2 linked regions of the Homo sapiens genome follow. The protein of the gene in region 2 purifies or fractionates together with the protein of the main gene of each other region. This does not show direct contact. Each region holds a gene or a part of one and is shown on either strand. Other genes may lie near its edges. The genes, in order: HEPHL1 and SGIP1.

Region 1 (3,834 bases), on a different chromosome or scaffold from region 2:
CACCATGAATGGAAAGAACCTGAAATAGAAATCCAGAGACCTAACTTCTAATGCTTGCTCTGCCCAACTTGCTGTGTAATCTTGAACATGTCATATAATCTCTCTGAATATCACTTTCCTTAATTTGTGTAAGAAGGGAGTTGAAATGTAATCCCTAGAGTCACTTGAGAAGTGTAATGCCAAAGCATTAGAAATAATTTTGAAACTGAATGAAAAATATCTTTCCTGACTTGCCAGTTCTAGAAAGATTTTTGCAATGGTGAAAGAAAGGAGAGAGATGATTTGCAAATGTTCAGTCCTAGAAATTAGAGTTGGAGAAGACCTGGGACTGATCGTGGGCATATGTGACAACTTTTGAAGTAGTCTTTATTTTTCTTTCTCCATTTTTTCCCCTGTCCTTTAAGAATTATCTCCAATTCCTCACTTCATACATGAAGCTTTCCCCCATGACCCTGGCTTGTACTGATCTGTTTCCTTCCTAACCACTCATGGAGCTTGGGGTCTTTATCATGAACTTGGACACTGCATTTTCTTCCCTCTGCATTGCCCTCTAATTGCTTGATGTACATTAGTCATGTCTGCAACTGCAGTAAAACACCCTGATGATAGATAAGAAGTTTTGGCGTATATTCAATAATCCCCCTTCCCTGCACGGAACTTTGTCATTGACAATATCCTATGGAGGATCCAGTACAGGGCAGGCATTCAAAATCATTGAAGTAAAAGCTAATCACCTTATCAACTGAGTTGTTCTGGTTGTTTTATCTTTGAATAAGGGGAATGGGCAAAAATCTGGGGAACAAGATGGTGGGTGCCAAAGTTTCAGTAATGTGAAAACATTTGGAAACCAAAGTTAGGCACATCCTTATGCACAAGGACGAGATCGAAAATGAATTGAAATCATTTTGCTGAGACTCTATAGCCCTCAGATGGTGCAAATTAACTTTTATGCTTGGTACCTATGCTTGATTATAGGGTTCAAAAATATAATTGAGTCTATAATCACTAATGTTTCCTAGAAAGTATAGGATTTAGGAGTTAGATTCTATTTAGAAATACTTTCTCCAGATAAATATACTTCTCCTCCTCCTTGGAGTAAATGGGGACACTGGGCTCCTTTGAGTTGCCTGGGGATGGTGTCAGTATTTTGATCTATTTATACCAGTCCTGCTCAGGCTCATAAAGTCCTTAATTAAGGTGTGTGTTTGGTGGTAAAGCCTGATCCTTAATGGAAGTAGGGTGGGGTCATCTTATTTAAAGCCACAGTTCTCACCATAGACCTCATTAGGCCATCAACACACATTCAGCCTTTTTCTTCCCAGTGAAATGCAGGGTTTTCATGGACGCTAACTCATGGGTGGAACTGCGCTTGAACATAAGTGAGGCTAGCCACTGCTCAAACCCCATTTTTGTAGAGTCTGTTAGTTGACCCAGCCACATCACTGCATCAGCCCAGTGTATGGCAAGGGGCTTTGAGTATTCTAAGAAGCAGGCCCTAGGATAGGTGTGAGAGAGAACTCACACATCTATCTGAAAGAAGGACCAACTGAGGGGAAGCAGGGAGGAGACAGAGGTTTTTGTGAGCTTTGAAATAAAGAAAAGAATATCATCTGGTAAGTGCATGGTCTAAACAAATGGTAACTTTCAAATCTCAACTTCTGTCTTATCAGCACCAAAAATATTTTGTTTGGACTGATGCCATATGAATCTCTGGGAACTGCTGTTCTACCCTATATCAGTAAGTGATTGTTTCTGGCTGCCACTAGAGACTGGAGTATAATGTCTTTAACAAATTAGGATTTTGTATTCATTTGTAGAAGAATCCAGAAGTGGGCAGTCCAAGGCTGGTGGGATAGATGGTATAACAAGATATCAGGGGCTTTCTGTATTTCTGATCCACCATCCTTAGCCTATGTGCTTTAAACCCTTTGTGGTTTCCCTCCTCAAGCACATTCATGGTCACAAGATTGCTGTTGGATCTCCAGCCATCGTGTCTACATTCCAGGAAGAAAGAGAGAAAGGCAAAAGGTAGAAGCAGAACAATTTTTGCTGCATCAGCCTTTCAAAGGGTTCTCATTGAAACCCTACCCAACCAATTTTACTTAAATCTCATTGGATACTCATAGCCACAAAGAGGACTTGAAAAAATATAACGTTTCAGCTGTGTACTTTTCTGCCTGAATAAAGATAGAATTTACCTCTGACACTAAGAAAGAAGGGGAGCATGAATATTGCAAGGCAGCTGGCAGTCCCTGCTCCCCTCCCCTACCTCAGTTCTCTCCTGTTTTCCATGATTCACAGGCATCCTCTTAGTCCCCATCTTGCTTTTCCCACCTCCATATGATGGACCCCCAAGGCCTGGTTAGCAGGATCTGAAAGATAACTCATTGACAGTATAATAAGTTAGCTAAGTGTCACTGAGTATTTACTATGCTCCAGGCATTGCTTTAAAAGGTTAGCACACCATGAAGTGGGGTGACCAATCTTCTGTCTCTGGGAGGGAGATCAGGTGGCATCGGGAGGATTTCTCCAGCCAAGTGTAGCCCAGCCTTGGTCTTAGGGAGATGCCAAGGCAGTCCAGTTTGCTGGTAAAGTATGGGGCTCTGGCATCAACTGTCACATTTAGAATTCTTGCCCCACTTTATGGGCAAGTAATTCAATCTCTCTTTGCCTCAGTTTTCTCATCAGTAAAATAGGGATAGTGACAGTACTTGCTTTGAGGGTGTATCAGTTTTCTGTGGCTGCTGTAACAAGTTACAAACTAGGTGGCTTCAAACAACAGCAATTTATTCTCCCCCAGTTTTGGAGGCCAGATGTCTGAACTGCATGTGTTGTCAGGGCCACAATGCCTCTGGAGGTTCTAAGGGAGGGGCCATTCCTTGACTCTTCCAGGTTCTGGTATCTGCCAGCATTCCTTGGCTGTGGCTGCATCACTCTGATCTCTGCCTCCATTTTCATATCGTCGTCTTCTCTCTGTGTGTCTAGCCTATCTTTGCCTCTTACTTATAAGGATGCTTTTGATGGTGTTTAGGGCCCACCCAGCTAATCCAGGATGATCTCCCCATCTCAAGATCCTTAACTTAATCACATCTGCAAAGACCCATTTTTCCAATAAGTTTCTGTGGATGAGGACTGCGGAGTTATCTTTGGGACTTAGGATCTGCACATACTCAGACACAGTGCCTGCCACTTGAGAGCACTTGATCAGCTCTCGTGGTAGCTCTGCCGTCTCACGGGGTTCTTTGGAGAGCAGGAGCCCTGGGGGAAAGACCTTGGCTGGTCACATTTTCCTCTTTTCTAACAAAGCTTTACGCTTTACCAGAAATAATCATAACTGTCATTGATTCAGCACCACTCTCCCAGTTGCTGTGTGTGTGGCTCTACACCTCTTCTCATTGAATCCTTATGATAGCTCTACCATGGTCACTGCTTTACAGCAGAGGAAACTGGTTCAGAGAGGTTAAGTCTCTTCCCCATTTCACAACCAGCAAGTGAGAGAGTTGGGATTCAAGCTCATTTTCATTCCCCCTCATCATGCCATTTGTTTTGAACACACCTTGTATATGAAGGGCTTCTGTGGAAATGAAGAGTGAAAAGGAAGGACCCAAGACATAGGTGGTGCCAGGGACCCAGAGTGAAAGAATGTATATAGAAGCACATCCAGATGGTATTAAAAATTATTAATCTAATAGGGAGGGTGCAGCTTCACCAAACTGAATGTGCAATCTCCGTCTCCACCCTTCCTTTTTCCAAGTGACATTTGTCTCAATCTCATCTTTTTTTCTCCTTGGTGAAGAACGTTCCTTCTCAAGCTCAAACAATATTTCTTGTCCT
Region 2 (3,834 bases):
ATTCTTTTTATCATTGAGATGAGCATTTGCAAGATAGATTGGGTAAGTGGTCTGTATACAGGCCTCTGAGCAAAGCTAAGACTCTCATAGGGATATAAAACTTCTTAGCTTATAGAGACTCTGCTCTTCTTCTGTATTATAACTACCAAAATTATCATTTAAACTCCAGGATCATCTTATAAGTGAAGTGAAATCTTTGATGATTTAAATGCTCATGGATGAAATATTATGAATGCTGAAAAGGCAGCATGGTAATTTTAGTATCACTCTTTTCTGCTTAGTTGGTGATAAAGACCATGTTTACATTTGGCCAAATATTTCACTGGATAATTTCTGAGAAACTACTGGTCAAAGTAATTCAAAAGTAAATAAACGTATTCAGTTCCTTAATTGCCTTAACTGACTAATTTAGACAAAGCTGGTTTCATAGAAAGGGATATTAAGTTTGAGTTAATAAATAATTCACTCTTTAAAGCTCCCAATTATCATCGCAATTAGTTAATATTACTGAGCACTCACTGAGATTGATAGCAACACAGTAGCTCCTCCTCGTGGATATTAATCTACCAACACCATAGCATTCAGAACTGTATTTGTATGAAAACCACACTACTGTTAATAGATTCATAATAATCTCTACAAATTGTCAAAAAATGGCTGTACATATCAGACGACAATTTGCTAAGATGCTTCGTGTAGGGTTTATATTTGTTTTAAGATGCTACTCAATCATTTTTCTTCCCAAATGAACAGTGATAATACACAAAATGATGCCAATACCAAGGAATTCTGGGTAAACATGCCAAATTTGATGACTCACCTAAAGAAAGTGTCTGAACAAAAACCCCAGGCTACATATTATAACGTTGACATGCTCAAATATCAGGTAAGCCTATTTACATGATCGGTATCTCTTCCACATGACATATTTGTTTTCTAAAGTACCTACTATTGAATAAAAGTAACTAAAGTAACACTTCTTTTAACAGTATTTAAAAGCTATAACTCATTTTTTTAAATGGAAACTTTAAAAGATAACTTGGGGACTACTGACAAAAATATTCATACATATTCTTATTAGTTTAAGCTTACAAGTAAAATATTTTATCACAAAATTAGAGAAATGTGCCACAAAAAAATGAAGTTGCAAAACATTATACTAATTAAGATTATAAGTTTATATTGATAAACAAGATGATTATAATTTTGTTAAGAACATTACTATACTAAAACCTCTTATTTTAAATGATTCAAGGTACACAATCTGCTTTTGTTTTTCTAGTAAGATAGTCCTATGAAAGAATTCTAATAAAATCTAACACTAAGAAATAGTTCAATAATAAAGGAATGTTTGATACTTACAATATATGAGAACTTTCTTTTTGTATCTAGAATTGCCCTTATCTCAAATTATTATTGATATACTAAATAAGCCTAATTCATACCAGGATCCTGATAGTGCCTGAGTCTCTCATTGGTTCCCAGCCACTTGACTGCCTAGATTTTTTTGGTTTTTTTTTTTTTTTTTGAGACAGAGTCTCACCCTATCACCCAGGCTGGAGTGCAGTGGCACAATCTTGGCTCACTGCAATGTCCACCTCCTGTGTTCAAGCGATTCTCCTGCCTCAGCCTCCTGAGTAGCTAGGAATACAGGCATGCACCACCAAGCCCTGCTAATTTTTTGTATTTTTAATAGAGACGGGATTTCACCCTGTTGGCTATGCTGGTCTGGAACTCCTGACCTCAGGTGATCCGCCCGCATCAGCCTCCTAAAGTGCTGGGATTACAGGCATGAGCCACCACACCAGCTGACTCCCTAGATTTTTTTAAACTTTTTTATTTTTTAAATTGACAGGTACAATTGTATGTCTGTATTAGGTACAACATGATATTTTGAATATATGTACGTTATGGAATGACTAAACTAACATACGTATTACCTCACATAGTTATTTTTGTGATGAGAACACTTTCCATTCACTTTAGCATTTTTCAGGAATACAGTATATGGTTATTACCTACAGTCACCACCTTATGCAATCAATCTCTTGAATTTATTCCTCTCATCTAACTGAAATTTTGTGTCTTTTGACCAACATCTCTCTAAACAAACCCCCACCCCACCCCACCACCACTACCTCAGCCTCTGGTAACCACCATTCTACTCTCTAATTCTATAAGATCAACTTTTATTTTTATGTTATTTTATTTTATTTTATTTTATTTTATTTAGTTTTTTGAGATGAAGTCTCCCTCTGTTGCCCAAGCTGGAGTGCAGTGGCACGATCTCGGCTAATAGCAACATCCACATCCTGGGTTCAAGCGATCCTCCTGCCTCAGCCTCCCAAGTAGCTGGGATTACAGGCATGCACCATCATCCTGGCTAATTTTTGTATTTTCGATAGAGACGGGGTTTCACCATGTTGGCCAGGCTGGTCTTGAACTCCCAGCCTCAGATGATCCCCGTTCCTTGGCCTCCCAAAGTGCCACTGTGCCCAGCCAAGATCAACTTTTAAATATTCCACATAAGAGTGAGATCGTGTGGGCCGGGCGCGGTGGCTCACGCCTGTAATCCCAGCACTTTGGGAGGCCGAGGCGGGTGGATCATGAGGTCAGGAGATCGAGACCATCCTGGCTAACAAGGTGAAACCCCGTCTCTACTAAAAATACAAAAAATTAGCCGGGCGCGGTGGCGGGCGCCTGTAGTCCCAGCTACTCGGGAGGCTGAGGCGGGAGAATGGCGTGAACCCGGGAGGCGGAGCTTGCAGTGAGCTGAGATTGCGCCACTGCAGTCCGCAGTCCGGCCTGGGCGACAGAGCGAGACTCCGTCTCAAAAAAAAAAAAAAAAAAAAAAAAAAAAAGAGTGAGATCGTGTGGTATTGGTCTTTCTGTGCCTGGCTCATTTCATTTACCACGTTTTTAATGCATTATAATTTTTTATTAAATATGTTCAGATTATTTTTCTTCAAATGAAGGAAGTTGTACTTTAATAAAAATCAGGACATCTCAAACTTGACTGTATTTCTCAATCAAATGCTGGTTCTGAATTGATGCTAAAAAGAAATATATGTGTATACATATTTAAATAATATAAATATTTATTTATAATATTTACATATACAACCTAGATACATATAAAACCTATACAATCTATAACATATAAAATAACACATTATATTCATAAATATAAATATTTATACAAATATTTTAAATATAAATATTTATACAAATATTTTAAATATAAATATTTATACAAATATTTTAAATATAAATATTTATACAAATAGTTTAAAATATTATATAAAATATGCAAATATATAAATATGATATATGTGAATATAATACGATATATTATATGTGAATATAATATGATATATGTGAATATAATATATAATATATGTGAATATATTATATGTGAATATAATATATTGCGTATTATATGTGAATATAATATATTGCGTATTATATGTGAATATAATATATTGCGTATTATATGTGAATATAATATATTGCGTATTATATGTGAATATAATATATTGCGTATTATATGTGAATATAATATATTGCGTATTATATGTGAATATAATATATTGCGTATTATATGTGAATATAATATATTGCGTATTATATGTGAATATAATATATTGCGTATTATATGTAAATATAGGTAGAGATCATTATTAAATATACATATATGTATTTTGGGGGGTGTTAGGACCTAGCAGATATATATATTAAATATACTTTTTAAATTTTATTTAATTGGTTTAGAATGCCACCCAGGTATCTGTACTTTGTATAAGTTTCTCAAGGGAGTCTATGCATCCTCTGCTT

The links.
Region 1: the proteins of SGIP1 (region 2) and HEPHL1 purify together in Homo sapiens (affinity purification with mass spectrometry; one large-scale study listed by BioGRID and IntAct). This does not show direct contact.

What each region holds. Positions count from the first base shown.
Region 1 is NC_000011.10:94,024,197-94,028,030, forward strand, and holds part of HEPHL1 (ferroxidase HEPHL1 precursor), read left to right. Parts: intron 1-3,834. UniProt on the Homo sapiens protein: Is a copper-binding glycoprotein with ferroxidase activity. It oxidizes Fe(2+) to Fe(3+) without releasing radical oxygen species. May be involved in the regulation of intracellular iron content.
Region 2 is NC_000001.11:66,732,995-66,736,828, forward strand, and holds part of SGIP1 (SH3-containing GRB2-like protein 3-interacting protein 1), read left to right. Parts: intron 1-753; coding exon 754-886; intron 887-3,834.